Homo sapiens: one gene and its partners. The protein of the gene in region 2 purifies or fractionates together with the protein of the main gene of each other region. This does not show direct contact. Each region holds a gene or a part of one and is shown on either strand. Other genes may lie near its edges.

What was found.
Region 1: the proteins of AHSA1 (region 2) and DDX39A fractionate together in Homo sapiens (co-fractionation; 2 studies listed by BioGRID). This does not show direct contact.
Region 3: the proteins of AHSA1 (region 2) and FASN purify together in Homo sapiens (affinity purification with mass spectrometry; 2 studies listed by BioGRID, with this or other methods). This does not show direct contact.

What each region holds. Positions count from the first base shown.
Region 1 is NC_000019.10:14,408,437-14,418,871, forward strand, and holds the end of DDX39A (ATP-dependent RNA helicase DDX39A), read right to left. Parts: intron 4,789-10,435; 5' UTR 4,785-4,788; coding exon 4,577-4,784; intron 4,243-4,576; coding exon 4,115-4,242; intron 3,163-4,114; coding exon 3,070-3,162; intron 2,737-3,069; coding exon 2,553-2,736; intron 1,899-2,552; coding exon 1,780-1,898; intron 1,438-1,779; coding exon 1,306-1,437; intron 1,210-1,305; coding exon 1,100-1,209; intron 1,012-1,099; coding exon 867-1,011; intron 749-866; coding exon 601-748; intron 517-600; coding exon 500-516; 3' UTR 362-499; downstream 1-361. UniProt on the Homo sapiens protein: Helicase that plays an essential role in mRNA export and is involved in multiple steps in RNA metabolism including alternative splicing. Regulates nuclear mRNA export to the cytoplasm through association with ECD.
Region 2 is NC_000014.9:77,459,662-77,470,096, reverse strand, and holds the end of AHSA1 (activator of 90 kDa heat shock protein ATPase homolog 1), read right to left. Parts: coding exon 10,291-10,435; intron 7,938-10,290; coding exon 7,855-7,937; intron 7,456-7,854; coding exon 7,338-7,455; intron 5,500-7,337; coding exon 5,411-5,499; intron 4,559-5,410; coding exon 4,430-4,558; intron 2,015-4,429; coding exon 1,913-2,014; intron 1,641-1,912; coding exon 1,589-1,640; intron 1,021-1,588; coding exon 848-1,020; 3' UTR 625-847; downstream 1-624. UniProt on the Homo sapiens protein: Acts as a co-chaperone of HSP90AA1. Activates the ATPase activity of HSP90AA1 leading to increase in its chaperone activity.
Region 3 is NC_000017.11:82,085,467-82,095,901, forward strand, and holds part of FASN (fatty acid synthase), read right to left. Parts: intron 10,007-10,435; coding exon 9,854-10,006; intron 8,306-9,853; coding exon 8,132-8,305; intron 7,954-8,131; coding exon 7,753-7,953; intron 7,554-7,752; coding exon 7,431-7,553; intron 7,347-7,430; coding exon 7,231-7,346; intron 7,124-7,230; coding exon 6,989-7,123; intron 6,219-6,988; coding exon 5,756-6,218; intron 5,604-5,755; coding exon 5,416-5,603; intron 5,099-5,415; coding exon 4,909-5,098; intron 4,675-4,908; exon of another isoform or gene 4,494-4,674; intron 4,261-4,493; coding exon 4,166-4,260; intron 3,919-4,165; coding exon 3,784-3,918; intron 3,707-3,783; coding exon 3,503-3,706; intron 3,411-3,502; coding exon 3,295-3,410; intron 3,097-3,294; coding exon 2,924-3,096; intron 2,842-2,923; coding exon 2,650-2,841; intron 2,569-2,649; coding exon 2,488-2,568; intron 2,396-2,487; coding exon 2,219-2,395; intron 2,039-2,218; coding exon 1,859-2,038; intron 1,788-1,858; coding exon 1,584-1,787; and 5 more. UniProt on the Homo sapiens protein: Fatty acid synthetase is a multifunctional enzyme that catalyzes the de novo biosynthesis of long-chain saturated fatty acids starting from acetyl-CoA and malonyl-CoA in the presence of NADPH.

The DNA of each region.
Region 1 (10,435 bases), on a different chromosome or scaffold from region 2:
CTAAGGGCGCTTGTCCCATCCTGGACTTTTCCTCTCATGTCTTTGCTGCAGAACTGAAGAGACTAGGCGCTGGGGCTCAGCTTCCCTCTTAAGCTAAGACTGATGTCAGAGGCCCCATGGCGAGGCCCCTTGGGGCCACTGCCTGAGGCTCACGGTACAGAGGCCTGCCCTGCCTGGCCGGGCAGGAGGTTCTCACTGTTGTGAAGGTTGTAGACGTTGTGTAATGTGTTTTTATCTGTTAAAATTTTTCAGTGTTGACACTTAAAATTAAACACATGCATACAGAAGATGGCCTTGCCTGCTGGTGGTGATTCAGAGGCCGGGCCCAGGGTGTCCGTGAAAGGCCAAGATGACCAAGAAATAGATGGGGTGGGAGCCAGGCTTCCATAATAACAAGTTTATTCTCATACAATCTCTAGCTTCTCAACAGTGGCGCCTGGAAAGGGGAGGTGAAGCTGCATGCGGGCGGCTCCGGGTGGGCGGCTCTGGCACGTGGTGGTTACCGGCTCTGCTCGACTGTAAGACATGAGATGCAGTGAACTGAAGGGCCGGGGGAGGAACCCTCTGCCCCAGACCCCTGGCCCTGCCCAAGGCACTTACTGTATGTGGAGATGTCGATTTCCTCTGGAAGTTCTGCCACATTAACTTCAAACCGGTCCTGGACGTCATTGAGGATTTTGGCATCATTCTCGTCAGACACAAAAGTGATGGCTAGGCCTTTGGTGCCAAAGCGACCCGCCCGGGCCACCTGCAGGCAGACAGGATCAGGGTCAGGCCACAGATACTACCTCAGGACTTGAGGAAAAGCAGGGCTGGGGCCCCACCCCACCGCCAGGGGAAAGCAACATGCCCGTGAGGCTGCTCACCCGGTGCAGGTAGGTGTCCGAGTCCTCAGGCATGTCGTAGTTAAAGACGATGTTGACTCGCTCGATGTCCATCCCCCGGCCAAACAGATTGGTGGCCACCAGGATCCGCCGCTGGAAATCCTTGAACTGCTGATAGCGTGACAGGCTGGGGTGCAGGAGAAACAAGTGGAGGCCGTCAGACACTGGGCTCCTGGTGGTGCTCCCTGCAGCCTTGGCGGGCGGCTCGCACTCACCGCTCCTCCTGGGCCATGCCCCGGTGGATGGCGATGGCCGGGAAGTTCTGCTCCACGAGGAGCTGGGCCAGGGCCATGCAGCGCTGCACTGACTTGACGAAGATTATCACCTGAGGGAAGGAGTGGCAGTCAGGGCCACACAGTCCCTGTGGCCCAGTGACCTCCCGAAGGTCCTGAGCCCCAGGACAGGCTGATGGAAGTATCACCTGGTTAAACTCCAGCACATCCAAGAGATCAAAGAGCTTGCGGTTCTTCTCACTGTCTTTGAGTTTGACGTAGTACTGCTGCAGGCCGTGCAGCGTGAGCTTGGTCTCGTCGTCCACAAACACCTCCATGGGCTGTGTGGGAAGGGAGGTGGGAGGGGCGGGCAGGGATCACCTCTGGGCATCTCGCCTGCCCAGAACCTTCCAGTGGGCGACTCCTTTGTGCGACACTTCCCAGAGGACCTGCTGCACCAGACCTCAGTAAACATCGCTCAAAAGCTGGATGTAAGCTCTGGCCCGACTCAGGTGTGGACCAAGCTTGACTCCCAGTTTGACAAGACCGAGGGGAGGAAAGGAGGCTCCGCCGGCTCCCAGCATCCCAGCATCCTCCGTGCCATGTGGGCCGTGCGGGTGTCCTGGGGCCCCAGGCTCCAGGCCCCTGGGGAAGGCCAAAGCTGCCACTCTCGCCCTACTCACATCCTGCATGAACTTCCTGCACACAGGCCGGATGTCCTTGCTCAGGGTGGCGCTGAACATCATGCACTGCTTCTCGTGTGGTGTCAGGCGGAAGATCTCCTGCACATCCCGCCGCATGTCTAGGTGGGGAGGGCAAGACATGGGTGGGCATGAGCGTCTGCCATGCAGGACCCCCACCCCAGACCAGACCCAGACCCCTCCCAACCTGTGCCAGGGAGCCAGTGGCACCGTGACGAGGGCAGAGTGAGCCGCGGGAGTGGCCAGTCCTGGTGCCTGAGGGGCTGGGGGGTGGCCAGCGAGCGCAGGCGCGGGAGGAGCTGCAATCCACTTACACGCTGGCGCGGAGCAGCCGTGCCCGTGCGCCTCGAGCCACGCTTCAGGGAGGGGAGCCTGAGGCAGAGACAGCCGCTGGGGTGAGAGCTGCAGCTGCCTCCCAGGACACAAGCCCATCTCCCACCGGCCCTGTCGGGGCTCACTGAGGGCAGGCGGGGCCTGGAACCAACCCAACAGGTGGCAGAAGCCTCATACTCCCAGAGGTATGTGTGCATGCCTTTACGTCCAGGAGGGACGGGGGCTTGCTTGGGCCCCGTGGTCCCATTCGGCTCGGGCTCAGAAACAGCACATCCCTCTGCCAGCAGCAGAGCTTTCCCCAAGATCACCACAGGAGCCCCGCCTGCCGGCCGCCCATGTAACCCACTCAAGAGCCTTCCGCCTGCTATGGGGCCCGCCTAGTCACTGACTCTCAGCTGGGGCTGCAAGGGCAGAGGACTCACCCAGCTGCTCCAGCATCTTGTCACACTCGTCCAGCACAAAGTGCTTCACATTCTTTAGGCTGAAGCTCCTATTCCGCACGAGCGCCAGGATGCGGCCCGGGGTCCCCACCACGACATGGGGACAGTTCTTCTTCAACACTTCTTCATCCTTCTTGATGGAGAGACCACCGAAGAACACAGACACCTATGGGGATGAGGAGGAAACCGCTCCATGCTGATACACGGCCCAAGGCCCCAACCTGCACGGCCCAGCACCTGCGAACAGGAGGCCTCAGGGGACCAAGGCAGGCCTGAGAGCCTCCCGGGGCTCCACTCAAAGGCAGCCCCAGGCTGGGACCTGCGCAGGCCCCTGGGAGCCATGCATAATTCATCAGGCTTTTAAGGAGCAAAAACCACCGCAAACCTCAAAGGCAGCTGCCCCTGCCAAGCTTGGTAAATGCTGGCTGGGCCAGAGCCGAGGCTAACAAAGCTGCAGAAACCAAGTGGCGCCTGGTCCAGTCTGGCCCGAGGGACTCACCTTGACGCTGGGCATGTACTTGGAAAAGCGCTCATATTCCTTGCTGATCTGGAAGGCCAGCTCCCTCGTGTGGCACATGACCAGGACCGTCACCTGGGAAGTGGCATAAGAAGAGGGCCTTACCTTAGGCAGTGTCCTAAACCCCTTCCCCACCAGAGTCCACCCAACCCAGTCCCCCTGACACTGCACCCAACATCACAGGCCATTTGAAGGCCCGGTCCAAATGCCTCCCACTTCTCACGGCCCTTCCCCACCCCTCACTCCCTATACCCTCCCACAGCTATTGAAACCTGTCTCCCAACACCAGGACCCACAATAAGAAACAGAAAATGGAACAGAAAATGGCCCGCATAATGTAATGGTTAGACCTGGCCTGCCTGGGTGACATGGGACCTGGCTCTCTAAGGATTTCCTGAATCTCGGCACTCGGGCGGCCCCGGTCTTCCCACCCGTGCCATCAGACACTGGACCACACCACAGCCCTCCACAGCACCTTCATCCTTCAGGATGTGCTCTGAGATAACGAGGGCACGGGCGCCAATATGAAGCCCAAAGATGTGCACCTGGCCTGACTCGGGAGCAAGACACCAGAATTCACTGAAGTGTCTCCCCAGGACAGTGGCACACAAGACAATGGGAGAAGACAGCCAGGGCCTAACAGCAAGGACAGTGGTGACAGCTATATTCGGGGCAACCCAACCTTCACAGATGGACACTCTCTAGGTAAGTGGCACGGCAAAACAGCAACGATGCCTCTGGGGCAAGGGGCAAACTGTGGGCACTTTCCAGTTATTTTGGCTTATTGGCAATTTCTAATTTTTGTTATAACTAATTATTTTTTGAGATGGAGTCTACCTCTGCCACCCAGGCTGGAGTGCAGTGGTGTGATCATAGCACACTGCAGCCTCGACTTCCTGGGCTCAAGCAATCCTCCAGCCTCAGCTTCCCAAAGCACTGGGCTAACAGGTGTGAGCCACCCCATCCAGCCTACTCTACTTCCGCCGCCACAGGCAGGGTGGGGCCAGGAAGGGAGGAGCCCACCCACCTGTCCGTTGACAGGCTCAATCTGCTGTAGGGTGGCCAGCACGAAGACCGCTGTCTTGCCCATCCCGGACTTGGCCTGGCACAGGACGTCCATGCCCAGGATGGCCTGGGGAATGCACTCATGCTGGACTGCAGGAGAAGCAGAGCGTGAGGGACGAGAACCTGGATGCACCCCCGTGCAGGATCCTCACCAGTTGACCGGGGGCCCACAGTGAGGGCAATCAGAAGAGGCCGAGTCCGGACAAGGCCACAGACACCTGCAGGGCTGGGGTATCCGCCTGGTCAAAGCAGAACGCCCCACTGCCGAGGGCAGCCACAGGCCCCGCTGGGCACAACTGATCCGCGGGACAGACGGGCCCCTCCCTCACCCACGGCAAACTGGAGGCGGCACCGCTCTGGGCGGGCAGGGCTGGTCTTGTCTTGGTGAGGACCTGGGCAAGAGGATAACACCCAGAAGGCGTACCCTCAGAAGGATGCTCAAAGCCACAGTCCACGATGGCCCGCAGGAGCTCCGGCTTCAGCAGAAAGTCCCGGAAGCCAGAGCTGTGGATGGAAACGTAGGATCCCTTGATGTCTTTCTTAGGGGGAGCTGGTGTGCTCTCTTGAGGAGCCTGGGGCTCTTCCTCTTCATCGTAATCCAAAAGATCGTTTTCCACATCCTGTTCTGCCATGATGCTGAGAAGAGAGAGAGGCAGGGTCCCGCGAGTGGGCACAGAAGGATGATGAAGCTTCATTCAAATGGCATTCTCTGCCGCCTCCTTCCATGAGTGAGCCCATCAGCTCTACCTGGGCTGCACCTCGCAGCTTCGCCCTGTCTCCACCTCCCCACCCCCAAGCTACCCCATCTCTCCCCCATGCCCCTCTGGCCACACCCACAGACAGAACACCCTCCACCTCCAAGGGCTTCCCATGGCTCACAGAGTTAAAATCCCAACTCTCACCACAGGCCAGGCAATCCCCTTGGTTTGACCCCTGCTCACCTCATCCCACACCACCCCCAGCCTTGTTCAGCTGCTCAGACCCCTGGAGCCCCTGCCCCAAGCCTTTGAACCTGGCTGTCACCGCCAGGAATGCTCTGCCCCCAGGTCTCTGCACAAATGCCTCCTTCTCCACACGCAAGCCTCAGCTCCAGTGAACCTCCTCAGACTACTCAGCCCAGAGAAGCCCCCTCCCTATCACTCCCCAAGGAACCCACTGGGCTTTCATGGGGCAGGAGCCCAAAGATCCCAGGGGTGGGGCTGCCAGGATGCTGGTGGGAACTGAGTTTGCGAGAGAGCAAGCAGTATCTGTCCAGCCCCAGCTTCTCCCACTCTCTGTGGTCTGCACAGGGGAATAATTAAGTGCTCTCATGAAAGGCCTCCTATTGGGCCTGGGCCAATAAAAATAAAGCTGAGAAGATGGAAAATGGAATTAATACAAAGTCTGCCTACCTCTTTGCTTTATTAATCTAATGCATACCAAGTGCCTGCTGGGTGCAAGGGACCCAAACATGAGGACAATTGTCTTTCGTCCTCCTCCCCTACCCCAGACTCCAGTGGGGGGTGGAGCAGAGGGTGACAGCTGCTACAATTCTTCCTGAGGCTGGATGCTGAGGATCCTAGGCCACTTTTGGCCTCGCTGTCACTCATTCCCGGCTCAGAAACAGCAATTCCATTGTCTCAATGGCTGTTTTCTCTCTCTCAACCTCCCTGTCCATGAGGCAGTGAATCCCACCAAGGCCCTCTGGCCAGTTCTCACCTATGCTACCATGCTGGCCCCAAGCTGCTATCACCTGTTTTATTATTATTATTATTATTATTATTATTATTATTATTATTATTATTGAGATGAAGTCTTGCTGTCACCCAGGCTGCAGTGCAGTGGCGCAACCTCGGCTCACTGCAACCTCCACCTCCAGGGTTCAAGATTCTCCTGCCTCAGCCTCCTGAGTATCTGGGATTACAGGTGCTTGCCACCATGCCCAGCTAATTTTTGTAGTTTTCGTAGAGACAGGGTTTCACCATGTTGGTCAGGCTGGTCTCAAACTCCTGACCTCATGATCTACCCACCTCAGCCTCCTAAAGTGCTGGGATTACAGGTGTGAGCCACCGCGCCTGGCCTTATTATTATTTTTAACTAGAACAGCTTTACAGGCTGCGCGCGGTGGCTCACGCCTGTAATCCCAGCACTTTTGAGAGACCAAGGCGGGTGGGTCACCTGAAGTCAGGAGTTCGAGACCAGCCTGACCAACATGGTGAAACCCCAACTCTACTAAAAATACAAAAATTTAGCCAGGCATGGTGGCAGGCGCCTATAATCCCAGCTACTCGGGAAGCTGAGGCAGAAAAATTGCTTAAACCTGGGAGGCGGAGGTTGTGATGGGCTGAAATCACGCTTCACTCCAGCCTAAAAAAAAAAAAAAAAAAAAAGAAAAGCTTCACAGAGATATTTACATGCTATACAACTCACCACTTAAGGCAGATAATTCAGTGGTTTTTAGTGTAGTCACAGACATGTGCAACCACTACCACATGTGCAATTTTAGAATACTTCATCACCTTGAAATAAAAGCTCCTGTACCCTTTACGTATCCATACCCTAAACACCCCACCCCAGCCCCGGGCAACCACTAATCTGCTTTCTGTTTCTATGGATTTGCCTGTTGTTGTGGACATTTCACATAAATGAAATCTTATAATTTGTGACATTTTGTGTCTGGCTTCTTTCACTCAGCACAGTGTGCTCTACCACATCATCAGTACTCCCTTCCTTTTTTTTCCCCCCTCTTTGAGACAAGGTCTTGCTCTGTTGCCCAGGCTGGAGTGCAGTGGCCCAATCAAAGCTCACTTCAACCTCTGCCTCCCGGGCTCAATCAAGCGATCTTCCCACCTCAGCCTCCCTAGTAGCAGGAGCTACATGCGCCCGCCACCACTAATTTTTGTATTTGTAACAGAGATGGGGTTTCACCATGTTGCCCAAGCTGATCTCCAACTTGTGGGCTCAGGCGATCCGCCCACCTCAGCCTTCCAAAGTGCTGGGATTACAGGTGTGAGCCACCACACCTGGCCTCATTTCTTTCCATGGTCACCTAATGTTCCATCTCACCAACATACTACATTTTGCTTAACCACTGTCAGCTGGACATGTAGGTGCCATCATCTCTTGCCTGAATTAAGCCAATATCCTCCTCCCTGGTTTCCCTGTTGCCATCCCCCAGCCCCTCCCCAGAGCAGCCAGAAAGACCCTATCAAACTAAGTCACGGCCAGGCGCGGTGGCTCACACCTGTAATCCCAGCACTTTGGGAGGCCTAGGCGGGCGGACCACCTGAGGTCAGGAGTCCAGGACCAGCCTGACCAACATGGTGAAACCCCATCTCTACTAAAAATACCAAAAATGTGCCGGGTGTGGTGGCGGGTACCTGTAATCCCAGCTACTTGGAGGCAGGAGAATCACTTGAACCTAGGAGGCAGAGGTTGCAGAGAGCCGAGATCACACCATGGCCCTCCAGCCTGGGCGACAGAGCAAGACCAAGACTCTGTCTCAAAAAAAAAAACAAACCTAAGAGTACATCACTATTCTGCTCAAAACTTTTAATGGGTTCCTACTGTGCTTAGAAAAAAACTCGAGTCCTCACAAAGCCAGCCTACCGGGCCCCTCCTAACCCGACTCCTCTATACTCATACCTCATCTCCCCCATTGCCCCTCACTCGCCAGCCTTGCTGCCGTGTCTCAAACACACCTCAGCACCTTTGCACTTGCTGTTCCTGCTGCCTGGAAGGGTCACAAATCCCCCACTTCTTTTGGGCCTCCTTTGCTCCAGAAAGGCATTTCCTCACAGCCCCAACTAAAACAGCACCGCTTCCAGTCAGCCCTGCCCTGTGAGAACAGCTAATAAGCACTCCATAGCAATGGCTGAATAAATGGAACTAGAATAAAGGCGTTCAGGCAGAGTTGAACATGTCTCTTTATCTGACCCTTCAAACAGGCAATCTGAAGGGGTCACTTCCCAGGCAGCAGGGAAAACAGGAGCCAAGAAAGGTCAGTCCGAAAAGCACCAGAGCCTTTTGGGGTATGCAGAGTAGGACTAGCTGGCTGGCGTCAGGGCAGAAGACAAAGCTGGAAGAGCTGGTCAGCCACACAGGGCATGTGTTTGTTTGTTTGTTTTTTTGTTTTTTGAGACAGGGTCTCGCTCTGTCACCCAGGCTGGAGTGCAGTGGTGCAATCATAGCTCACTGGAGCCTCGACCTCCCAGGCCCAGTGAGTCCACCACCTCAGCTTCCTGTGTAGCTGGGACTACAGGTGCATGCCACCACGCCTGGCTAATTTTTGTTTTAGTAGAGACAGTGTTTCACCACGTTTCCCAGGCTGGTCGTGAACTCCTGGACTCAAGCAAACCTCCTGCCTCTGCCTCCCAAAGTGCTGGGATTACAGGAATGAGCCACCCACCACGCCCAGCCTGGGCCTGTGTACTTGTTAAGCAATAGGGAACTGCTAATTAGATTGGAGCTGAGCCACTCAATCAGGATCTGCCCAAGAGTACTGTAACTTACTCCTCCGATGAAGGGGTAGGTTAAGACCAGTAGCAGGGAAAACCAGTCACCAAATAAAAGAGAAGTAACCAGGGTAGGGGCGTGAGGTAAGGAAAGAAAGGGTGGGACATGCCAAAAGACAGGAACATCCCCTGACCAATCCATGGGTAGAGAAAAGCCACAGTCTATTCTGGGCTCCAAATCTAGGTGGCCAAGAGATGGTGTATTTTAAGGAAATAAAGCAAAGTTGTTTTGTTGGTGGGGAAATAAATTTGGGGCAGGCCCGGCATGGTGCCTCACTTCTGTAATCCCAGCACTTTGAGAAGCCAGCGTGGGAGGATGGCTTGAGCCCAGGAGTTCGAGACCAACCTGGACAATAAGTCGAGACCGCGTCTATACAAAAACAATTTTTAAAAAAGTAGCCGGGTGGGTGGGGGGAGGGGGGAGGGACAGCATTAGGAGATATACCTAATGCAAATGACGAGTTAACGGGTCCAGCACACCAACATGGCACATGTATACATATGTAACAAACCTGCACGTTGTGCACATGTACCCTAAAACTTAAAAAAACTTAAAAAACACATAGCCCAAGGGGCACCTTCTATGTAGCAAAGGCTAAAAAATAAATAAGTAGAAATTAAAAAAAGAAAAAAATTAGCCCGGTGTGGTGGCATGGGCCTGTAGTCCCAGCTACTTGGGAGGCTGTGCCGGGAGGATCGCTTGAGCCAGGAGGTCGAGGCTGCCAGTGATGGCGCCATGGCATTCCAGCCTGGGTGACAGAGGGAGACCCTTTCTCAAGAAAAATAAATTTAAAAAAAGAAATTGGGGCCCAGCGTGGTGGCTCATGCCTGTAATCCCAGCACTTTGGGAGGCGAAGCGGGCGGATCACTTGAAGTCGGGAATTAGAGACAAGCCTGGGCAACATGGTGAAACCCCGTCTCTACTACAAATACAAAAATTAGCCGGATGTGCTTGCTTGAACCCGGAAGACGGAGGCTGCAGTGAGCCGAGATAGTGTCACTGCACTCCAGCCTGGGCGACAGAGCAAGGCTCTGTCTCAAAAAAAAAAAAAAAAAAAAAAAAAGAGAGAGAGAGATAAATAAATTGGGGTGAACCGAATCTGCTAAGATAAAATTTTCGAGAAACCGGGCTGGACAGGATCTAAAGCTCAAAACTGATTAGATCAGGAAAGGATCCGGCGGGGTTTTCCCCGCCCAAAGTGGGTGGCCATGACCGCTAAGGCGCCAGGAGCGCATGAACTTGAAAGGTGACAGCGGGGAACTCACAACCCAGACACGCCACGTGTACCCAGTTACCCTCAAGTGTCCCCAGGCAGGCTTTCCACCCCGGAGTTTATTCCCACCTGGGGACTCCTATTTCCAAAAGAAAATCTTTTTTTCATTCTGTTTTTTTTGAGGCAGAATCTCGCTCTGTCACCCAGGCTGGAGTGCAGTGTCGCGATCTCGGCTCACTGTAACCTCCACCTCCCGGGTTCAAGCGATTCTCGTGCCTCAGCCTCCCGAGTAGCTGGGACCACAGGCGCTCGCCACCACGCTCGGCTGATTTTTTTTTGTATTTTGAGTAGAGACGAGGTTTCACCATGTTGGCCAGGCTGGTCTCGAACTCCTGACCTCAAGTGATCCGCCCTCCTTGGTCTCTCCCAAAGTACTGAGATTACAAGAGCCACCGCGCCCGGCCTTCCAAAATAAAGTCTTATTTGCTCTAAATCTCAGAATCCCGAATCCCGTAAAAAGTAGACCAAGAAGAAGGTAGACTGGGAAAGGGATCAAGTCCCTCGGACCCAAAGAAA
Region 2 (10,435 bases):
TGGTCTTGAACTCCTGGCCTCAAGTGATCTACCTGCCTCAGCCTCCCAAAGTGCTGGGATTATAGACCTGAGCCACTGCGCCTGGCTATATGTAAAATACATGTATTTAAAAGCCAAGGCTTAATTAAGTTCTTGTAAAACAAATGACAACAGTACCTACTGCGTATTATAGAGATCAAATGAGTTAATGCAAGTAAACAGTGTAGTGTCTAGTACTCAGTAACTGCAATGTAACAGAAGCTGCCACAAGTTAGGAATCTCCCACCTTCCCATATCCCAAACCAGCATCTGGTGATCACTTATCTTTGCAAGAGGGTAAGAGGCCATGGGCAGTGCAAAGTGAGAAGTCAACTGCACTGGCAGTAGAGGCATAGTGTTAGCACTCCCTACCCAAGTACCAACCCTCCCCTACTGTTATGGGTAAAAAGGCAGAAACTATTTACTAGTAAGAAAGACTAGCTCAGGAATGCCTGGTAGTGAGAAGCAGGCTCTGTGCCTCTTAATTACCTACACTTACCCAGAATAGAGACAAGGCTGTCCACCCTGTCCTTCTTTTTTGAATTCAAAACCTTCAAGGGAGCTCTCAATACCAGCCACTCAATCAACATAGGTTCCAGACACGCATGTTTTTTAAATTATGTTTATTTAGCATATGTACACATAAAAGAGAAATTGCCCTCTGAACCCACCCAGCAGAAAACATGCACAAACCCAAGGTATATGTGGAAGGGAGGGGCCCCGGCCCCAAGTTAGCAGCTGGGACGATGCAATCCTGTGAGTCGCAAGCCCCAGTCAGGAGAGAGCTGGACTGAAGTGTCCAGCAGGCTGGAGTCCCCTGCCGCTGGCCCTAAAATAAGCGTGCGCCATAGCCAAAGGTCTGTTTAATGCCCTCAAAGTAGTACCGCTGCCAGCCCTGTCGCGTCCGCTCTTCCTCAGGAGCAGGGATGCCTCGACCTTCCATGCACAGCTCAGTCTCTCCGTTCTTGTCGATGAAGGTCAAGGTGATGGTGGCAAAGTGTCCTGGGAAAGGCAGAGGGGACGGAGGTTTCATATCTAGGTTTCCATCTGAGTTTAAGACTGGGGCAACCTGGCTGGGCGTGGTGGCTCACACCTGTAATCCCAGCACTTTGGCAGGCTGAGGTGGGCGGATCACCAGAGGTCAGGAGTTCCAGACCAGCCTGGCTAACATGGTGAAACTCCATCTCTACTAAAATTACGTGGGCGTGGTGGCATGCACCTGTAATCCCAGCACTTTGGGAGGCTGAGGCAGGAGGATCACTTGAGCCCAGGAGTTCGAGACTAGCCTGGACAATGTAGTAGGACCCCATCTCTACAAAAAAAGTAAAAAAGTAAAAAAAAAAAAAAAAAAAAAAAAGCTGGCATGGTGGCACACGTAGTCTCAGCTACTTGGGAAGCTGAAGCAGGAGGATCGTTTGGGTCTGGGAGGTTAAGGCTGCAGTTTGCTGTGATTATGCCACTGCACTCTAGCCTGAGTGACAGTGAGACCCTGTTTCCAAAAAAAAAAAAAAAAAAATTACAGCAAAGAGAAAAAGTTCTGGGGGTAATGGCAATAAATATGTTTACTTACCCTCTGGCCAAGATTTAAACCTCCACTTCATCACAATATGTTTCTCAGGGACCTAAAATAATCAAACAGCTCAGTCTATATTATATACTACAATGTACCCAATCCTAGCTAGGATCAGTCATCTGCCCTTCATACGGAGTCTACCATCTGTGCAATTATATTACTTGCAAGACAGTTCAAATCACAGCCTTTTTTTGAAAAACAAAATGTTTTATTAACAAAGAGATTAAAGCCTTACATTTTACCTATAGAGTTCAGAAAAAGAGAAATGTCACTCATCTGACCAGAGGCAATAACCTGAGTCTAGGGCCGGCAGGTACTCACCAGATCAGTAAATTCCCCAGAGACGTTGCCATCTACCATGTGGAACTTTCCACCTCTGTCTGCTTCTAATGTTGCAGGAGCATGGGTAAAGGCCTGCACCAGCTGCAGGGAAAAAAAAAAAAAAAAAAAAAAAGAGGCAGAAGATACATGGCTTTCAGTGGGACCCAAGGACAAATGCCAGCTGAAGGCTGCATGCCTCAACTCTCATTTCCACCAGTCTGCCCCACAGGCGGGTCCAGGGTGTCCCTCTATTCTGTTTTAATACCAGCCAGGACTTGACTTCGGGAATTCTTTCTGATCTGATGATGCCATTACTTTGGACCCGTTTACTTTTATTTATTTGAAATTGTATATGGTTCAGAAAGATATAAGAATGAGCTTATGAAAGAAAATTCTCAAGTAAATGTTTGAGACTTCTATTATCATTTCTGAGAACATGTCCCAAAATAGATCTATTCCATCTTTTATTTTATTTTATTTTTTTATTTATTGAGACGGAGTCTCACTTTGTTGCCCAGGCTGGAGTGCAGTGGCGCGATCTCGGCTCACGCAACCTCCGCCCGTCCAGGTTTTAAGCAATTCTCTGCTTCAGCCTCTGTAGTAGCTGGGATTACAGGCGCATGCCACCATGCCTGGCTAACTTTTTGTATTTTTTAGTAGAGATGGGGTTTCACCATCTTGGCCAGGCTGGTCTTGAACTCCTGACCTCGTGATCCACCCACCTTGGCCTCCCAAAGTGCTGGGATTACAGGCGTGAGCCACCGCGCCCAGCCCTTTTATTTTTTTTGAGATAGGTCTCGCTCTGTTGCCCAGGCCGAAGTGCAGTGGCATGATCATGGCTCACTGCAGCCCCGACCTCCTAAGCTTAGGTGATCCTCCCACCTCAGCCTCCTGAGGAGCTGGGACTACAGGCGCATACCACCATACCTGGCTAATTTTTGTATTTTTTGTAGAGACAGGGCTTCACCATGTTGGCCAGGCTGGTCTCAAACTCCTGGGCTCAAGTAATTCACCCGCCTCAGCCCCTCAAAGTGCTGGGATTAGAGATGTAAGCCACTGTGCCTGGCCTACTCCATATATATGAAATCAGTATCATTTTGCTGTGTTCGATTACCCAACGGTGCCGCTTTTACTTTTAATAAGACTTTACTATTTTTTAAAGTAGGTAATACGAATACATGGTACAAAATTAAAAATAAACAGAAGGTTAAAAATGTTAGGAATCCTCCCATACAAAAGTATTTTAAAACTCTGAAAACTTTAGCTAGTTTGGAAGCAGAGATTCAACTGAAGTCTGTGTTGAAGTGCTAAATTCAATTCACATGAAGACCACAGCTATGCTGCTAAGTCCTTCAAGGCAGCAGGCACCAAGTAGAACCAAGTTAGCCATCGAATGCAGTCTTTGGCATAGCCAGGTCATAACACATCTCTGGAGTCAACTAAGATAACTTTCTGAAGTACAGTACAATTTTGTTTATACACATCTTTTTAAATTTCTAGAAAACCCAGTCCATTTAATTGCTTCTCCAGTTCTTGGTTTTCTAAGGGGGAGAGAACTTATCACGAGAGTATTTTGGGTGCAGGCGCACAGACATACTAACACCCATATACTACATGGTACCTCTTAATTTATGGCTGTATTTACATTTTTGTTTAAAAAATAAGATCTTGAAATTTTGTCCCAGAGTATATGGGAACTTCCACATATCCTAACCACCTTTACTATCAGATAATAAAGCTGAATACGGTCATGTTTCTCAACTCCACACTATAGCAGCAGAATGGCACAAGTCAGCTGTGCAACACAAAGAAGCCAGGAATTCTTCTGTGCTACAGAGTAACCAAGAATGGCCATTCACTTTTCTAGTAAGATTCACTCAGTGGTTTCTACTTATATGACCCAAAACTGGAACAGGCACGGTAGTGTGCACCTGTAGTCCCAGCTACTCAGGAGGCTGAGGAAGGAGGATCGCTTGAGCCCAGAAGTTCAACGTTAGTCTGGGCAACATAGCAAGACCAGGTCTTTTGTTTTTAAAATAAATAAATATGGCCGAGCACAGTGGTTTGCACCTGTAATCCCAGCACTTTGGGAGGCTGAGGCAGGCAGATCACTTGAGGTCAGGAGTTTCAGACCAGCCCATCTCTACTAAAAAATATGGTGAAACCCCATCTCTACTAAAAAACATAAAAATTAGCTAGGCGTGATGGCGTGTGCCTATAGTACCAGCTGTTCAGGACGCTGAGGCAGGAGAATTGCTGGAACCTGGGAGGCAGAGGTTGCAGTGAGCTGAGATTGTGCCACTGCACTCCAGCCTGGGCAGGTGACAGAGCGAGACTCCGTCTCAAAAAAAAAAAAAGAGAATAGAGGGAGGGAAAAATTCACTTTGATGAAGGCCTCATGGCTCCAGTTGTGAGTTTGTGAGTACCTCTTCTGTACACTGCTGAAGGGATATGCCCCCAACTCAAGTCACCTAGAAGGGCAGATGGCATGAGGCCTGAAGGACAAGACTTACTTACCTCTTGGGTGGTAAACACTCTATAGAGCTCCTCTGGTGACGTCAGGAAGGTTTCCTTAAGAGTGATCTTACAAGTGGGGATTTTGACTCCAACAGGTCTGGCCTGGGTTTTTGAAGGAGCAGGCTTAGCCTGTGAAGGTGGCAGTGAAAATGATCAATACAGAGTAATGATACAACCTCAATCAACGTGGCTTCAGAGACAGTTGTACCATTCATTCTCATAAAAATGTTCACCTCCAAGGGTAATTATTCCAAGGGGTTTGAAGGGAATTTGAGTGTGTAGGTGTTTCAGTCATGAGGGTAATGATTCTGGAAACCTCCTCAATTCCCAGTAAAAATAACCACTCTACAAGGAAGACCCTGATAGTCAAATAACAAATCAAATCATTGAGATATTTTTGAAGAGCTCAGTGTAATTCTCAAACAATTTCTATGTTTAAATAGCTGGAAGCGGTTTTCTCCCCACTTCCAGAGTATCCACTTCACTATGCTGACAAAAGAGCAACAGGGCTCTAAACCAAGTGCTGAGCTTGAACCACAAACTTCCATCTCTAGATAAAGTACTTGCTCACCCTGAAAATTGGGGAGATTGGGTGAAGACAGGGATGTAACTCCATTTCTTGATGGGACCTCTAATATCAAAGTATGAAATATCAACACACCAATTAGACTGAAGACTTATATAGGTGAAGTCCATCCTTTGTTCATAACCTCCTAACTGGTGCTAAATGCAATCAAGAGTCAGACTTTTAACTGTCTGATAGCTCCTACTTGCTCTAAAGGTCTGCGATAAATGAATTAAAACCAGGTTAAAGATGGGTGAATGAATGCATATTGCAGGCGCTCTGAAAAAGCACCATGAGCAGATCGCAGGCTGGTCTGGCTTAGAGGTTAGGGACACAGAGAGCTGATATGTGGAATTAAGAAGGCGGTCTCTCAAGTTCCTTTGCAGACAGTCTCCCACCCCAGGAAAACCATTTACCTTGCGCTCCTCAGTTTTCAGTGCTGGCTGCCCCACTGGGTCTACTGACTCTCCATTCATTGTAGGTAAGATCATGCCCTGGGTGAACTCTGAAAAGATAAAATTCCAGCTCATGGAAGTTACTTCTTAGTAGCTGAGATCTGGAGTTTCATTACAGCTTGACAAACACAGCCATCCTACCACAGAATGAGGTTATGACCAGAAAAGGAAGAGGCTATTTTTACATCTTTACTTTTGGCCTATGCCAGACTGGTACCTGGGTATATGCTATAGAATACAGTATGTTCACTGGGATTATTATTATTTTTTTTTTGAGATGGAGTCTTGCTCTGTCACCAGGCTGGAGTGCAGCCTGCACTCCAACTCACTGCAACCTCTGACTCCCTGGTTCAAGCTATTCTCCTGCCTCAGCCTCCTGAGTAGCTCGGATTATAGGCGTGCACCACCATGCCCAGCTAATTTTTGTATTTTTAGTAGAGACGGGGTTTCACCATGTTGGCCAGGATGGTCTTGATCTCCTGACCTTGTGATCTACTAGCCTCGGCCTCCAAAAGTGCTGGGATTACAGGTGTGAGCCACTGCACCTGGCCACTGGGATTATTTTTAAAAGCTTATCCTGACTCAACTGGAAACATTATAACATATTAAGTGCATGTGAGGTCTACTATGGAAGGATGGCGTGAACGCCGTGGCACTTTGATGACTTCAAGAGTGGGTAATCTACCCAGCACCTATGGATGCATGGTTAGTGCCTTTCCTCCACTCTGCCTTACCTCTGCAGAAAAGCCACAACTAGTTATGGCACTGGTGTACTGGTCCTCCCCAAAAAGGTGTCTATCACCTTCCATCACCTTCTTTGATGGTTATTATACATATTCCAACACCAAGATCAGAATACACTGGCAGAAATGGAATCCCAGGGGAAAGCTGAGCTGACTTCTATTCTAAGCATCTAAATATCCCTGGAGAGTGCATATCAAAGATAGTCCAGACTGTATTCAAGTAATGAGTCCAGAGATGCCAAGTCTTTAGATTAGCGCTGTCCATTAGAAATATAATGTGAGCCTCAAATACAGTTTTTTTTTTGTTTTTTTTTTTTTTGAGATGGAGTCTCCCTCTGTCACCCAGGCTGGAGTGCAATGGCGCGTTCTTGGCTCACCGCAACCTTTACCTCCTGGGTTCAAGCAATTCTCCTGCCTCAGCCTCTTGAGTAGCTGGGATTACAAGCATGCACCACCATGCCCGGCTAATTTTGTATTTTTAGTAGAGATGGGGTTTCTCTATTGGTCAGGCTGGTCTCGAACTCCCGACCTCAGGTGATCCGCCCACCTCGGCTTCCCAAAGGGCTGGGATTATAGGTGTGAGCCACTGTGCCCAGCCCGTAGTGTAATTTATACTCACAGCACATCTCTTGTGTTTTTTGGTCATCCAGGCTGGAGTGCAGTGGCATGATCTCAGCTCAATGCAACCTCCCTGCCTCCTGGGCTCAAGCCACTCTCCCACCTCAGCCTCCCGAGTAGCTGGGATTACAGGCATGGGCCACCGCATCCAGCTAATTTTTGTATTTTTTGTAGAGACAGGGTTTCGCCATGTTGCCCAGGCTGGTCTCAAATTCCTGAGCTCAGGCAATCAGCCCACCTCAGCATCCAACAGTGCTGGGATTACAAGTGTGAGCCACCGCGCCAGGCCATCACAGTACATTTCAGTTTGGTCTAGCCACATCTAAAATGCTCAACCATCATTATTAGGCAACACAGCTCCAGATCTTTCCCTTACTCCGAGCTTATGGACTGACTTTAAGATGAAATAAGCCCCCTCCCCCCAAATCTTTACCCATTTGCCAAAGAAAGGACTGTCCAGGCCCTTAACCAGAGTCTAACAGGTGGAAACTACCTCCTTAAGGCATACAGAACTACTCAAGGGATACCTGTTTTGAGGGTGCTGATGTAAATTCCCATTGCTTCTCTTAGAAGTTTCACCCCTTCTTCCTTCATTAAGGCCACGAGATTTGTGTCAGGCTCATCTTTGGCAAGGCTCACACTAATCTGGGTGAAAGATGAGAAGTAGGTGGTAAATAACTTGAGGGGCACCCTCATTATGGAATGTGGGGGCTGAGCAATCAGGTGACTGCTGACATTTCCAAAGGAAATGCATGAGTACTGCGGTATTCGTACAATCCCCATTAGTGTTCCTTCTTGAGTCCTCTCTGTCAAGTGGCTAATGTTAGTTAGAACCCATGTCACTAGCTAAAGTGAAGAAATTAAAGAAGTGCAAATTGCTCTAGAAGTTTCCAATGGCACCATATGCCTAGAAAATTATCTGCAGGCTAGGGTTCTGAATGCTTGGACCAAGCCTGGGCTATGAATCCTGAATGACAGGTCACTTTTCTCATCTGAGAATAAGAGGATATAGAGGACTCGGATTAGGAGTTATGAAGCACAAACCTCCACTTCATCCACGCTGTTTTCATCAGACAAATTGGGGATCTCCACATGTCCTTTGTATTGTACTCCTGACTTAGAAGTACCTGTCAAAACCAATGCAATGTCATTAGTCCACTCCTTGGCAGGAAAGGTCTCTGCTCCAGGGTCCTAACTGCTACCTCACTTCTGCTGCTTTTGGATGGCTGAACTGATCCTCTTTATTCTGAGAATGCCACATGCCAGATGCAATCAACACCCGCACCCCCAAAAGAAATGTCTTTCCTCACCAGGTTACTGGAAACCAACTATGTTATTACAATGTGAGACAAAGAGCTACAGATTTGGTACTAGCATGAGTTATACCATGAGAACTTGGGTCAAAAGCCAGTAGTTCTGCTAGAATACTTGTTTTGAAAATATCAATTTATTTCAGTGCAACTGAAATATTAGGGAACAATTTGATTATAATGAGAAGTTCATGTTTGCTTATATGTGACTCCATCCATGAGAAACACTAGGTGAATACGGAAAGCCTCACCCAGCTACACAGGATACATAAAACACACACATCTCAAACACCTATCTGCCAATGACCTCAGTTTACAGCGTGTGTTGTGAGCCATACCCATCCTCAACGAGTGTAATGTTCCCTCTGATTGTGGATGACTCTCCTTCTACCATTCCATAGTAGTCCTCAAGCTGCAACCCTTCTGATGCCCACCTTTTCCCCCCGCAAGACAGAGTCTTGCTCTGTCGCTCAGGCTGGATTGCAGTGGCATGATCTTGGCTCATTGCAACCTCCACCTCCCAGGTTCAAGCAATTCTTCTGCTTCAGCCTCCCAAGTAGCTGGGATTACAGGTGCGTGCCACTACACACGGCTAATTTTTGTATTTTTTAGTAGAGATGGGGTTTCACCATGTTGGCCAGGTGTGTCTCCAATTCCTGACCTCGTGATCCACCTGCCTCAGTCTCCCAAAGTGCTGAGATTACAGGCGTGAGCCGCCGCGCCTGGCTTTGATGCCCACTTTCACAAATAAACTTCAGGTCTTTTTCATGGTAAAGCACCATATTTATTGTAGTATTCACCTATTTTTTATTTTTTTTGAGATGGAGTCTCACTCTGTTGCCCAGGCTGGAGTGCAACGGTGCGATCCCAGCTCACTGCAACCTCCGCCTCCTGGGTTCAAGCGATTCTCCTGCCTCAGCCTCCCGAGTAGCTGGGACTACAGGCACATGCCACCACGCCGGGCTAATTTTTTGTATTTTTAGTAGAGACGGGGTTTCACTGTGTCAGCCAGGATGGTCTTGATCTCCTGACCTCGTGATCCGCCCACCTTGGCCTCCCAAAGTGCTGGGATTACAGGCGTTAGCCACCACGCCCGGCCTATATTTATCTATTTCTTACCATTTAATGTGCACAAAACTATGCTACCAATTTTTAGTCCCTATATTAAAAAAAAAAAGCGTCGGCCAGACACAGTTCGAGACCAGCCTGGCCAACATGGTGAAACCCATCTCTAATAAAAATACAAAATTAGCCGGGCGTGGTGGCGGGCACCTGTAATCCTACTTGGGAGGCTGAGGCAGGAGAACTGGTTAAACCCGGGAAGTGGAGGTTGCAGTGAGCCAAGATCGTGCCACTGCACTCCAGCCTGGGTGACGAGCAAAACTCTGTCTAAAAAAAAAAAAAGGAGGTCTGAGCAAGATGACACCGAAGATTCCTTCCACACTACTATGCTTCGAGTGTACTTTAAAAACAAATTAACAAAAATCATGGACAGATAGATCTACTTGCACCCTTCTTTATGATATGACTGTTCACTTCGGAAATGTTTATCAAAGCACAAATTTCATGCTTTGCCCCATACACAGACAGTAGCTATCTCATACTCCCTTAGCTTTAGTGCCTTTTTACATTCAGGCTCCCGACAGTCAGGACTGTCCAAAACGGTCATACGCATGACCTCAATTTTTTCCTAATGTCATACACAAGGGACATAAAACTAGAAGATAGATAAAACAGCCCCAAATTACTGTCACACACAAGCTTCATTAGCGCAGTGGTTTAATCTGTTAAGATTCACACTGAAGACAGTGCACAAAGATCAAGACCAAAAAAATCCTCTCCTTCCTCCTTTTAAATCACTCACAAGATACATGTAGCTAGTCTGAAGAAATATCATCGTAGGTGTCCCAACAAAGACCAAGGCCCAAAGATGCAGTGGCCCGGCCACTTCATGGATGGGACTTATGAGACCCAGACACAGGAAATCCATTTAGCATCCCACAATGGCAAAGAAATTCCAGGACTCGATACTGCTTTACATAGGACTCCAAAGCAGCAACATCTGCCTTCTCCCTTCAAGGTCTGTAACTCCTCAAAACTGTTCTCTCCAGCTACTTAACAGGTTAAACAAAACACAGTTAATCTCTCTGACAGCCCAGCTTAGACTTACCTGTCCAGTTTAGTTTGACGCTCCATTCATAAAAGAAGATAAGTTTCCCTTTGCGATTGTTAATGGATGCCTCTCCATCAAGCTTACTCACTTCCGTCACCTCACACTTGCCTTCTTCATTTTGAACCTGCACTGCCAGGAACAG
Region 3 (10,435 bases), on a different chromosome or scaffold from region 2:
GCCCGGCGGCCGCACCTGGCTCAGGATGCCCTGGCCATACTGCGGCTCAGTGGAGGTGAGGAAGGCCACGATGTCCCCGAGGGGGTGCCCCCGGAGCAGTGTGTGCAGGAGCAGAAAGCCCCCTTCTCTCAGGGCAGCCACCATGTTGCTGAGAGCTGAGGCCGGGTCCCCGAGGGCAGCCACAGCACAGTTGCACACCAGGAGGTCGGCGCTGCCCAGGGCGCTGGGGGCAGGGTCTGCGGGATCCCACTGGCCCTGGGCAACGTCGTGCTGCTGCAGCTCGGCCTGGGCAGCCTCCAGGGCCTGGGGGTGGCGGTCGGTGGCCGTGTAGCTCAGCTGCAGCAGGGGATGGGGGCTGAGCAGGCCTGGGATGCGGGAATACAGGTGACCGTGGCCAGCCAGCACCTGTAGGGGGTGAATTCTGGAATCAGCCCCACACCAGGCAGGTGCCCCTGACCTGGGGCTGGGCAAAATGTCCATGAGGCCTCAGTCTGGCAGAAAGGCTTCCCCGTCAACCTGATGACGGTGCCAGCCATGGGCACGCATGGATGCCACTGGTCTTGTCCCTGGGGTCCTGCCTAGGCTGCACCTCTTGGAGCCCACGGGCGGACCCTCCACGGTGGCTGTGTGGACCGCACAGGACACGTGCACAGAACCACACAGGGAACTGGCCGGCCCCACCCACCGCCCAGGGCCCGCCCCGTGTCTGTGCTGTCTCCTGCAACTGATGTCAGGGTGGGTCCTACCATGTCCGGGGCAGAGGCCTGGCTGCCCAGGAGGCACCCACCTCCACCACCTTCATCTTCAGGCTGGGCATGTTCTCCACGGCAGTGTCCAGGCAGGCCTTGAGTGCCGGGGAGTCCAGGAGGCCGCTGAGCAGAGGGTCCTCTGGCAGCTTGGGCCTCTCCTGGGCCAGCACCTGCGCCAGCTCCAGCTGCAGGTTCCCGTTGAGCTGAAGCCTGCAGGCAGCCGACAACAGCCGGGGCAGTTCCTGCTGTGAGGGGTCCCGGGGGATCTGGGCCCCATCCAGTCCGGGCACCACCATCTTCAGCCCCTGCTGGGTCACCTTGGTCTGCAGTGCCTGCACCAGCCCTGGGGAGGGAGGGAGGCAGGCCTGGTGTTCCCAAAGCCCCAGGGCATCTGCCTGGCATGGGCTCTCAGACCCACTCTGTCCTTCTGGGGCCACCACCCCGCTCTGCCCACAGGATGAGAAATAGCTGAGGGTTGAGGAAGGGGCTGCCCACCACTGGGAGGCTGACTCCTGCCCACTGTGGACGCAGTGAGGGGCCGCATTCAGCTGCAGGGGCTACTCTGTGCCTAGCCAAGGTGTGACCTTAGGCTGAATCTGTCATCTTTGCCCCCAAGTACCCTTTCAAGACTGAGGAACAGTGACCAGGGACGAGGAAGGCTGGGGGCTGGGGGAGGGAGGGAGGCCGCCATCGTGAGCTCCGGCCGGAGGGTTGGGCTAGGGTTGCTGACCCCAAAGGGGGCCCCGTGGAGAAGCAAGTCTGGGGTCAACGTGAGGGGAGGCGATCGCTCCTCATCGCCAGAGGTGTCCGAAGCCAGCAGGGCTGGGACCTCACCCTTGCACAGTTGCAGCTCCTCCTGCAGGGCAGCGCGCTCAGACAGGCACCCCTCCTCCGTGTGGGGAGTGAAGCAAAACTTCTCCAGGATGGGCACCTGCTGCTCCTGCTGCCGCCGCGGGGCCGACTCAGTGTGGAGCCCGGAGATGTGGACGCCTCCGGCCACTGTGACCCTCAGCCACCTGCTCACCACCACGTCAGCCACTGTGGGGACAGGCTGGGTGAGTGCGGCATACTTGGGTGGGGGCACTGGGCTGGGGCTGGGGCGGGGCTACCTTGGGCCTTGTCCTGCAGTGTGTACAGCTTCTGCCTGTGGGTGGCAGGGTCGATGTGGATGGCGGTGACACGGGTGGGCAGGTACAGGCCGTGCTTGGCCGAGCCCAGGATGGACATCTGCAGCATGGTGTCCATGAAGCTCACCCAGTTATCCTTCCACAGCAGCCTCCCCGAGTCACCTGCACACAGGGCCTGGTTGGTGCTGTGGAACTCCCAGGTCCCTGGGGCCACCTCCCAGAGCCCACCGGGCCCCTCTGCTCCCTCCCAAGCTGCATGCCTAGCTGTGGGTGCCCTCTGTGGTCCCCACAATGACGACCGCCCTCCCCGGTGGCTTGGGCAGCAGTGTAGTCAGTACCCACCTTCCAGGCTGGCCTCCAGGATGCCCTGGAAATGAGGGCCGTAGTCGTAGCCACGCAGACGCAGCTCCTTGTAAACTTCAGCCTGGGCCAGGAAGAGGGGCTCCGTGGGGTTGGGGGTGGGGCTTTCCGGGTGGTCGAAGAGCCTGGGGTCAGGGTCATCCCACTGGTACACCTTCCCTGTGGAAAGGGAGGTGCGGAAGGGCCTGAGGACGGGCGGCATGGCCAGCGGGCACAGCCTCCGCAGCTCCCGTGCCACCGGCCCTGCTTACCACTCACTACCAGGTTGCCGTTCTCTGACACCTCGAAGGCACGGGAGGCCTCCAGGAGCCGTACCTCCAGGGACACTGTCCCTGCAGAGCGGGAGAGTTGGAGATCAGAGGGCAGCACCCGCCCCCCAGCTACCCCCGCCTTGGTCCTGGGGTACCCCTCACCAGTCTTGGGCAGGATGGTGGCCTGGTGCAGCACCACATCCTCAAACACCACAGGCAGCTGCTCGACGCCCAGGCCCAGGGCGCGGGCCAGCGTCTTCCACACTATGCTCAGGTAGCCAGTGGCGGGGAAGAGGACGCGACCGTCGAGGGTGTGGTCCACCAGGTAGTGGTCAGGAGACTCGGAGCTGGTGTCTGCGGGAGGGCACAGGCCTCAGCACAGAGCGGGCGTCTGTGGGGAGGGAAGAGTCTGCCCACCCGCCGGGCCCCTGCTCACCGATGTTGTAGATGGCGGCTGAGGGGGAACCTGAACCGTTGGGGAAGTCCTCGGCGGCCGGCACGTCCCAGGCCAGGCTGTGGTCCCACTTGATGAGTGGGGAGATGAGGGGAGTTCCTCGGGGAGCTGGGAACTCCACAGGTGGGAACAAGGCATTGGGGTTGGCGTCGATGCTACGGAGAAGGGAGGCATGGGTAGCACACCCGTCACCGGGGTCCAGGGGCTCTGGGTTCAGCCCACCCACTGCCTGCGGTGGACCATCCAGGGCTGCTGCCACCGGCCTGGGTCAGTGAGGGGCCCGCAGCCCCGCTCACCCACCCCACGCCGTCCCCGACTCCGGGAGACGAGACCCGGGCTGGGAAGGGACCCACCCTGAGAGGTGCAGCCTGCCGATGCCGGCCAGGAAGAACTCCAGGTTGTCCCTGTGATCCTTCTTCATCAGGGGGATGATGGTGCAGCTCGGCTTCAGGCCACGCTTCAGGACAGCCTGGGGGCGGCAGGGCAGGTGGGCTCTCTTGGTGCTCAGCTGAGGCGCCCATCCCAGGCTCCCGGCGCCTGCTGCCCCCAGGCTGGGCCTACCTGCAGCAGGGCGTGGGGCGCGATCTCCAGCACCACCGCGTGCTCAGGCACGTGCCACAGGGCCTCCTGGAACAGCACAGGGCTCACCAGGTTGTTGACATTGTACTCGGCGGAGGACGTGCGTGCCAGGCTGCTGTGCCACTGGGCCTCGGGGATAGAGGTGCTGAGCCAGCGGGCTGAACGTGGCTTCGGCTCCCGGATCACCTGCATGAGGGGCCAGGTCAGTGCTGGGTTGTGGGTCCCCTGGCCCGCCCCGCACCCCCCAGGCCGTATTAGTCCACCTTCTTGAGCTCCTGCAGCAGTGGGGGTGCGATGGCCTCCATGAAGTAGGAGTGGAAGGCCATACCGCCGGTCCGCACCTCCTTGGCAAACACACCCTCCTTCCTCAGCTGCTCCACGAACTCAAACACCGGGGCCTGGACATCGTGGGAGCCTGGATAAGCATCCTGGCTGGGCACCCACCTCAGGCTCGGAGAGGTAGGGCGCACCCACCTCACCCCAAGGGAACCGAGAGGGAATGGGCAAGGGACCTGAGGACAAACCTGCCCCATGCCCCAGGCCCGTCAGAGCTTGGTGGGGCGTAGACCGTGGCCGCGTGTCCCTGCCAGACTTGCAATGGCAGGCGCAGGGGACAGAGGAGCCCGCCCAGGCCGCAGCACCCACCTGAGGTCCCGAGATGGTGACTGTGTCCTTGGAGTTGTGGCAGGCGGGCACCACGCCCGGGGGGCAGCGCTGTTTACACTCCTCCCAGGACAAGCCTATGGCAGAGCCAGCCTCAGAGGCTTAGCGTGGACACCGAGCCGCTCCCAGCCACCCACCCACCCAGACACTGCCTGCAGCTGGGGGCAGTAATGACAAGTGTGGTAATGGCAGCCTTGGAGCCTTCATGAGAAAGGTTCGCCCCCTGCTGTGTTTGACCCGTGGGTGGAGGTGTCATTACAGAGCTGCCACTCCAGGGGCAGCTCCTGGGAGCCCAGTCCCCAGATGGTGGCCCCCTCAGTCCTCTGCAGCCAAGGTTCTTTCCAGGTCCTGCCCACATGTGGCCCATGGGGCTCAGAGATGGGTGCCAACAGAGGGCACCAGTCTGAGGGAACCCTGATGACCCGTGTGTTGGCTTCACCAGAGCCCCTGGGTTCTTGCTATGCTGCAGCTGTGTGCTCATCACACGGGGGCTCCACGCAGGCCTGATGCCCATGGACACGTGCCTAGGCCCAAGGCTGCCAGGTGTGGGGCCAGTGGGGCAGCTGCAGGGGACTCGCGCACGGCTGTGTCCGAGCTGGGTGTCCCCGGGCCAGCGGGGGCCACTCTATCCTACGGGGGCCAGGCCAGGGCTGCAGGTGAGGACCCCACAGCGAGAAGGCAGCCTCCTTTCTTGGAGGTGCTGGGGGCCCCTCCGGGAGACCTACCCACGGCTGCCATGGCGCCCGGCGGGAGATGGGCTTCTTTGATGCACTGTCCCCTCCAGTAGGCAGCGAGGACGGCCTCCTCCTGGGACAGGCAGCCGTCGGCGTAGCCACAGGCCACCTCCCCCAGGGAGTGGCCGACGATGCCATCTGGCCTCAGCCCCATGCAGCTCAGCAGGTCTATGAGGCCTATCTGGGGTGGGAACAGGACACTCAGGTTGCAACCTCCAGCAGGTGCAGCTGTTGGGGGCGGCCCCCGGCCCCACTAGGCCATCTCCACCCCCGCGCCCCATCGACCCTCCCAGGTCTCCTGATAGGAAAGAAGCCCCTATGGCCCCCACACAGCCCCACTGAGACCCCTCCTCCCCTCCCGTCCTGCCCCCAGCACAAGGCTCTGCCTAGCAAAGGGGCTGTCAGGGGCCCCGGACTCAACACTGCAGCTCCTGGGCTCCAGGGAAAGCCAGAGCCCTGGGGCTGGCGTTGCTCACACGCTGGCAGGCTGGGCCCTACCTGGATGGCAGTCAGGCTCACAAACGAATGGACGATGTCATCAAAGGTGCTCTCGTCTGTGCTCAGCAGCAGCTGTGACACCTTCAGGCCGAATGGCTTCACAGCCTCATCGGAGCGTAGGATGGAATCTCGGAAGCGGTCCAGGCGCATGAGGCTCAGCCCCATCCCGCGCCACTGTGTGCCCATCCCTGTCCCAGAGAGCACGTCACGAGGCTCAGCCCCATCCCGTGCCACTGTGTGCCCATCCCCGTCCCAGAGAGCACCTCAGGGGACCACCAGCTCCAGTTCGCCTGCCTTTCCCCAGGGAAGGGACCACCTTGGGGGCAGAGTGTGGGCTCACCAGAGCAGATGAACCAGAGCGGGCGCTCGCCAGCGGGCACCTGCTGCACCTCTGGGCCACCGCGCTCACCACCCAGCACAGCGTAGCCACGGAAGGGCATGGCGGTGGCGGGGACAGCCGCGATGTCGTTCAGCATGCTCAGGAAAGCCAGGTCCTGGCTGTGCCGGAGGCCCTGCTCCAGCAGCTTCTGCACGGCCTCAGGGGTGCGTCCGCTGGCCCGCAGCAGACGGGGCAGGGTGGCATGTGGGGCGGGTGCGGGGGGCGGCTGCGTGTTGGGCCTCAGGATGATGTGCACGTTGGAGCCCCCGAAGCCAAAGGAGTTGATGCCCACGTTGCCGCCACGGACGGGCAGGGGCTGGTCCACCACCTGCAGCCGCCCATCCAACAGCGCTGGGATCTCAGGGTTGGGGCTATGGAAGTGCAGGTTGGGGGCCCAGAGCCCGTGCTCCAGGGACAGCAGCACCTGCGGGGGTACGTGGTGGATGGGCAGCCGCCCCACTCCCTCTACCACTGCCTGAGCTGGGGGCAGGCACCTCCCCGAGACTCTCATGTGGGGCCAGGGTTCCAGGGCCCTCTCCGATGCACTTCCTGTCCCCAACCTAATTCTGCCATGGCACAGGGGTCCGAGGACTGAGCCGCCATGGCCCTGCCCTCAGCTTGGTCCAAGACCTCCCCTTCCGGCCTTGCTGCCTCCCAGCCTGATGTGGACCCACCAAAGCCTGGCTGTGGCCTGAACACTAAGGCCCCCTTGGCCCAGATGTTGCATCTCAGAGGCTGCAGAAGTTGGGGGGCAGAGGGCGTGAGTGATCATGGGTGTTGGGGCTCCTGTGCCTGGTCTCTCTAAAGGTCCCCAGGCCTCTGCTAGTGGGTCAGGAAGCTGTAGGGACGGGTGGGCGACACGGGAGACCCTGATGGTGCCGTGGACCCCCCCAGGCCTGCTCCTGCCTCGCTCTTCCCACCCAAGCGGCTCCTCCAGCTCGGCTCCGTGTCCGGCAGACGCTCTGCAGGGCATCAGGCCTCCAGGGAAGGCCCAGCGAGCCTGGCTACGAGCTCTCCCTGCTGTCAGCCTCAGTGCCTCTGCTCAGACCTGCAGCATAGCCCGGGGGACAGAGGCTCCTGGTGGGGAAGCCCCCGCCTCCACTTGGCAAAGAGAAAGCAGCAGTGCCCAGCCATGGCGCAACCCAGTCCCAGGGAGCAGGAGCCTGAGGGACCCCCAAGCCCAGCCCCACCTACCTTGGCCAGGGCTGCCAGCCCCGAGGCTGGCTCCGGGTGCCCCATGTTGGACTTGGTGGAGCCGATGAGCAGCGGCTCCTGGCGGGTGGCGCACAGGGCTCGGGTGATGCCATTCAGCTCCTGGGGGTCGCCCACCTGTGGGAAACATGGGGGGTGAGGGGCTCTGGCCAGGTCACCTCTCCAGGCATGGGCGTAGGTTAGGCTCATGGGGTGGTGAGTGGGGCGGGGGGGGGGGGCATCACCTTGGTGCCTGTGCCGTGGGCTTCGATGTATTCAAATGACTCAGGGGCCACTCCGGCCGACTGGTACAACGAGCGGATGAGCTGCTCCTGGATATCCCCTGAGGGGAAGGTCACGCCTGCGGAGGGCTCGGCTCAGTGCTGCAGCCCCAGCCCCGGCTCCCACCTGCCCCCCAGCACCCCGGAACCCCGGCAGAGCCCACCTTGCTCCTTGAAGCCATCTGTATTGGTGCCGGCGTTCAGGATGGTGGCGTACACCCGCCGGGCCAGGGACTTCTTGGTCAGCAGGACGGCCACCACACCCTCCGAGCGGCAGTACCCATTCCCTGGGTAGAGCAGCACCTCAGGCCCGGGGCTCAGCCCCACGCCGGCCCCCACCCCACCAGGAGGAGCTCTGGGGTGTGGGGTGGGTGCTTGGGTGGGGGATCCCCGGAGCTGGCAGGATCCTGCTCAGCGTGGGGACTGTGCGGGGGGCCGTCCTGTGCCACTGTCCCGCCTGCCCTGGCCGCGCAGCCGCACACTCACCCGCTGTGTCGAAGGCCTTGCAGGTGCCCTCGGGGCTGAGCATCCCCAGCCTCAAGAACTGCACGGAGGTGTTGGGCTTCAGCAGGACATTGATGCCCCCCACGATGGCGGCAGGGCACTGCCCGCTGTGGATGGCCTGGTAGGCGTTCTGCAGGGCCATCAGGCTGGAGGAGCAGGCTGTGTCCAGTGCGATGCTGGGCCCTGCAAGGAAGGGTGCTGCGGCTCAGGTGGGGCTGTGAGCACACGAGACCCCTGAGCACACCTCCTGCCACCAGGCTGGACACACACTGCACGGAGTGAGCCCACGCCACGTGGTTTCTGCTCAGCATGTGGGGACCTGAAGGCCACCCACCTCCGCAGGAGGCTGGGCAGGACCCACCTCTGAAGTCGAAGAAGAAGGAGAGCCGGTTGGCCATCATCGCTCGCTGGCAGCCCACCATGCTGTAGCCCACGAGTGTCTCGGGGTCTCGGCTCAGGGCCTCCGAGGTCTCAGAGCCGCTCACGCCCACCCAGACGCCAGTGTGTGTTCCTCGGAGTGAATCTGGGTTGATGCCTGCCACAAACAGTGGTCAAGGTGCCACGGCCGGGCCCCACAGCGCAGCCAGCCCACCCACCCACCCGGCTCTGGGGCGAAGGTCCCATCTTGGCCTCACTGGCTTGGGGTGAGGGGGGGTCCATCCCAGTGGGACCCTGGAAGGGGCCTAAGGAGGGTGAGGTGTCCTGCAGAGGGGCCAGAACAGAGCCTGTGGCCAGCAGCCAGCCCAGGTGAGGCCTGGAACAGGAACCAGGTCACAGAGGGAACGAGGCGGAGGGGGCAGGCGGGCCCAGGGGAGGGCACCAGGCACGGCCAGAGTGGCTCCAGGAAGGACAGAGGGCAGCATTGTCCCCAGGCGACGCCTTTGGCCCCTGGTGTCACCGGCAGCTCTGATGAGCCCGTCGGCCAGTGGCCTCTCCAGCGCCAAGGGCAGCCTGCACCAGAACAGGCCGTGATAAGGAACCGAGGAGACAAAGGCCAAGTGTCCAGGCTCGGGAAGGAGAGAGGGACACCGGTCACCCCCGGGGAGCATAACCTTAGTCTTGGGGTGGGGTCTGGCAGCAGGAAGGGCGCAGGAGAAGGGCTTCCACCTCTCGGCCAGCAGGGCCCCTCCTCGCCCCTGGTGGGCTGGCTCTGCCCTAGGGTGGGTGGGTGTGTGAACCGCTCACACCCAAGGGCAGCCCAGGGCTCAGCCTCCCCCTCAGGAGGTCCTTCTCCGCCCGGGGAGGGAGCACCTGGATCTTAAGAAATGGCATGGCTGGGCGTGGTGGCTCATGCCTGTAATCCCAGCACTTTGGGAAGCTGAGATGGATGGATCACGAGGTCAAGAGATCGAGACCATCCTGGCAAACATGGTGAAACCCCATCTCTACTAAAAATACAAAAATTAGCCGGGCGTGGTGGTGGGCGCCTGTAGTCCCGGCCACTCAGGAGACTGAGGCAGGAGAATGGTGTGAACCCAGGAGGCAGAGCTTGCAGTGAGCTGAGATCGCGCCACTGCACTCCAACCTGGTGACAGAGTGAGACTCCGTCTTAAAAATAAATAAATAAATAAAAATAAAAATAAAAAAACGGCGTGGCGCTTGTCCGAGGTCAAATGCCAGTCAGAGCGAGGGCCAGGCTGGCGGGAGAGGGTTGAAATGCCTGGGGTGGGGGGACGTGGGCAAGGGTAGTGGGGAGGGTGGGAGGGGAGAGACAGCAGGGCCGGTGCTGTCCGCTGCTTGGCTGGTGGGGGTGGGGGCCTGGAGGGCCCCTCAAGAACCTCCTGCTTTGCCTCTCGTCACTCCAGCCCCGGCCCCGGCCCCAGCACCAGCCAGACATCAGAAGCGAGGAGACTGGTACGCTCAGGTCAGGGCACACCCGCGACACCTCTGGGGTGCAGTTGGGAAACTGCGGCCTACCCCGTGGCCCACACCTCCCTGAGCCCGTTGGCCAGGCCAGGGGCACAGCCGGGGAGGGTAGGTGGTGCCAGCACCTGGTTCTACCAGAACCAAGAAGAGAAAACACTGCCTATTCCACGTGAGCAGCAGGAGCCCTCGGCGCAGCAGTCGCGAATGCCCGACCCACCTCCGTCCACGATGGCTTCATAGGTGACTTCCAGCAGCAGCCGCAGCTGAGGGTCCATCGTGTGTGCCTGCTTGGGGTGGACTCCGAAGAAGGAGGCATCAAACCTAGACAGGTCCTTCAGCTTGCCGGACCGCCGGGGCAGGCCGTAGAGCCCTGTGGGACAGGCGGGTGTTTAAATCTCTGACGGAAGCTGCCCAGAGGTGGGGGCCCTGTGGGGTGCTGCAGGCCCCTGGAGGGGCCATGGTGGAACTGAGGACTCTCTGCTATGCCTGGGAGGCCCAAACAATGGAGCAGGCTCCCCAGGAGGGGAAGACCATGGCCCCAAAGCGGGGACTGGTACGACCAGATCTGCTGCACAAGCCCCAAGCCCCAAGCCCCAATCCTGAGATGGGCCGCAGAGCAGAGAGCTCGGCGGGAGTGAGGCTGGGGGACCATCTGCCGGGCTGGTGCCTCGGCTCTACCATGCTGACTCACAGCTTGCCTGTCAGGTAGAGCTGCTCTGTGGAAGAGCCTACTGGGTGTGGGGCAGTTGCTCCAGCCTCCCGGAGCACATCTGGTATGCAACCTCCCAGCTCAGGACAG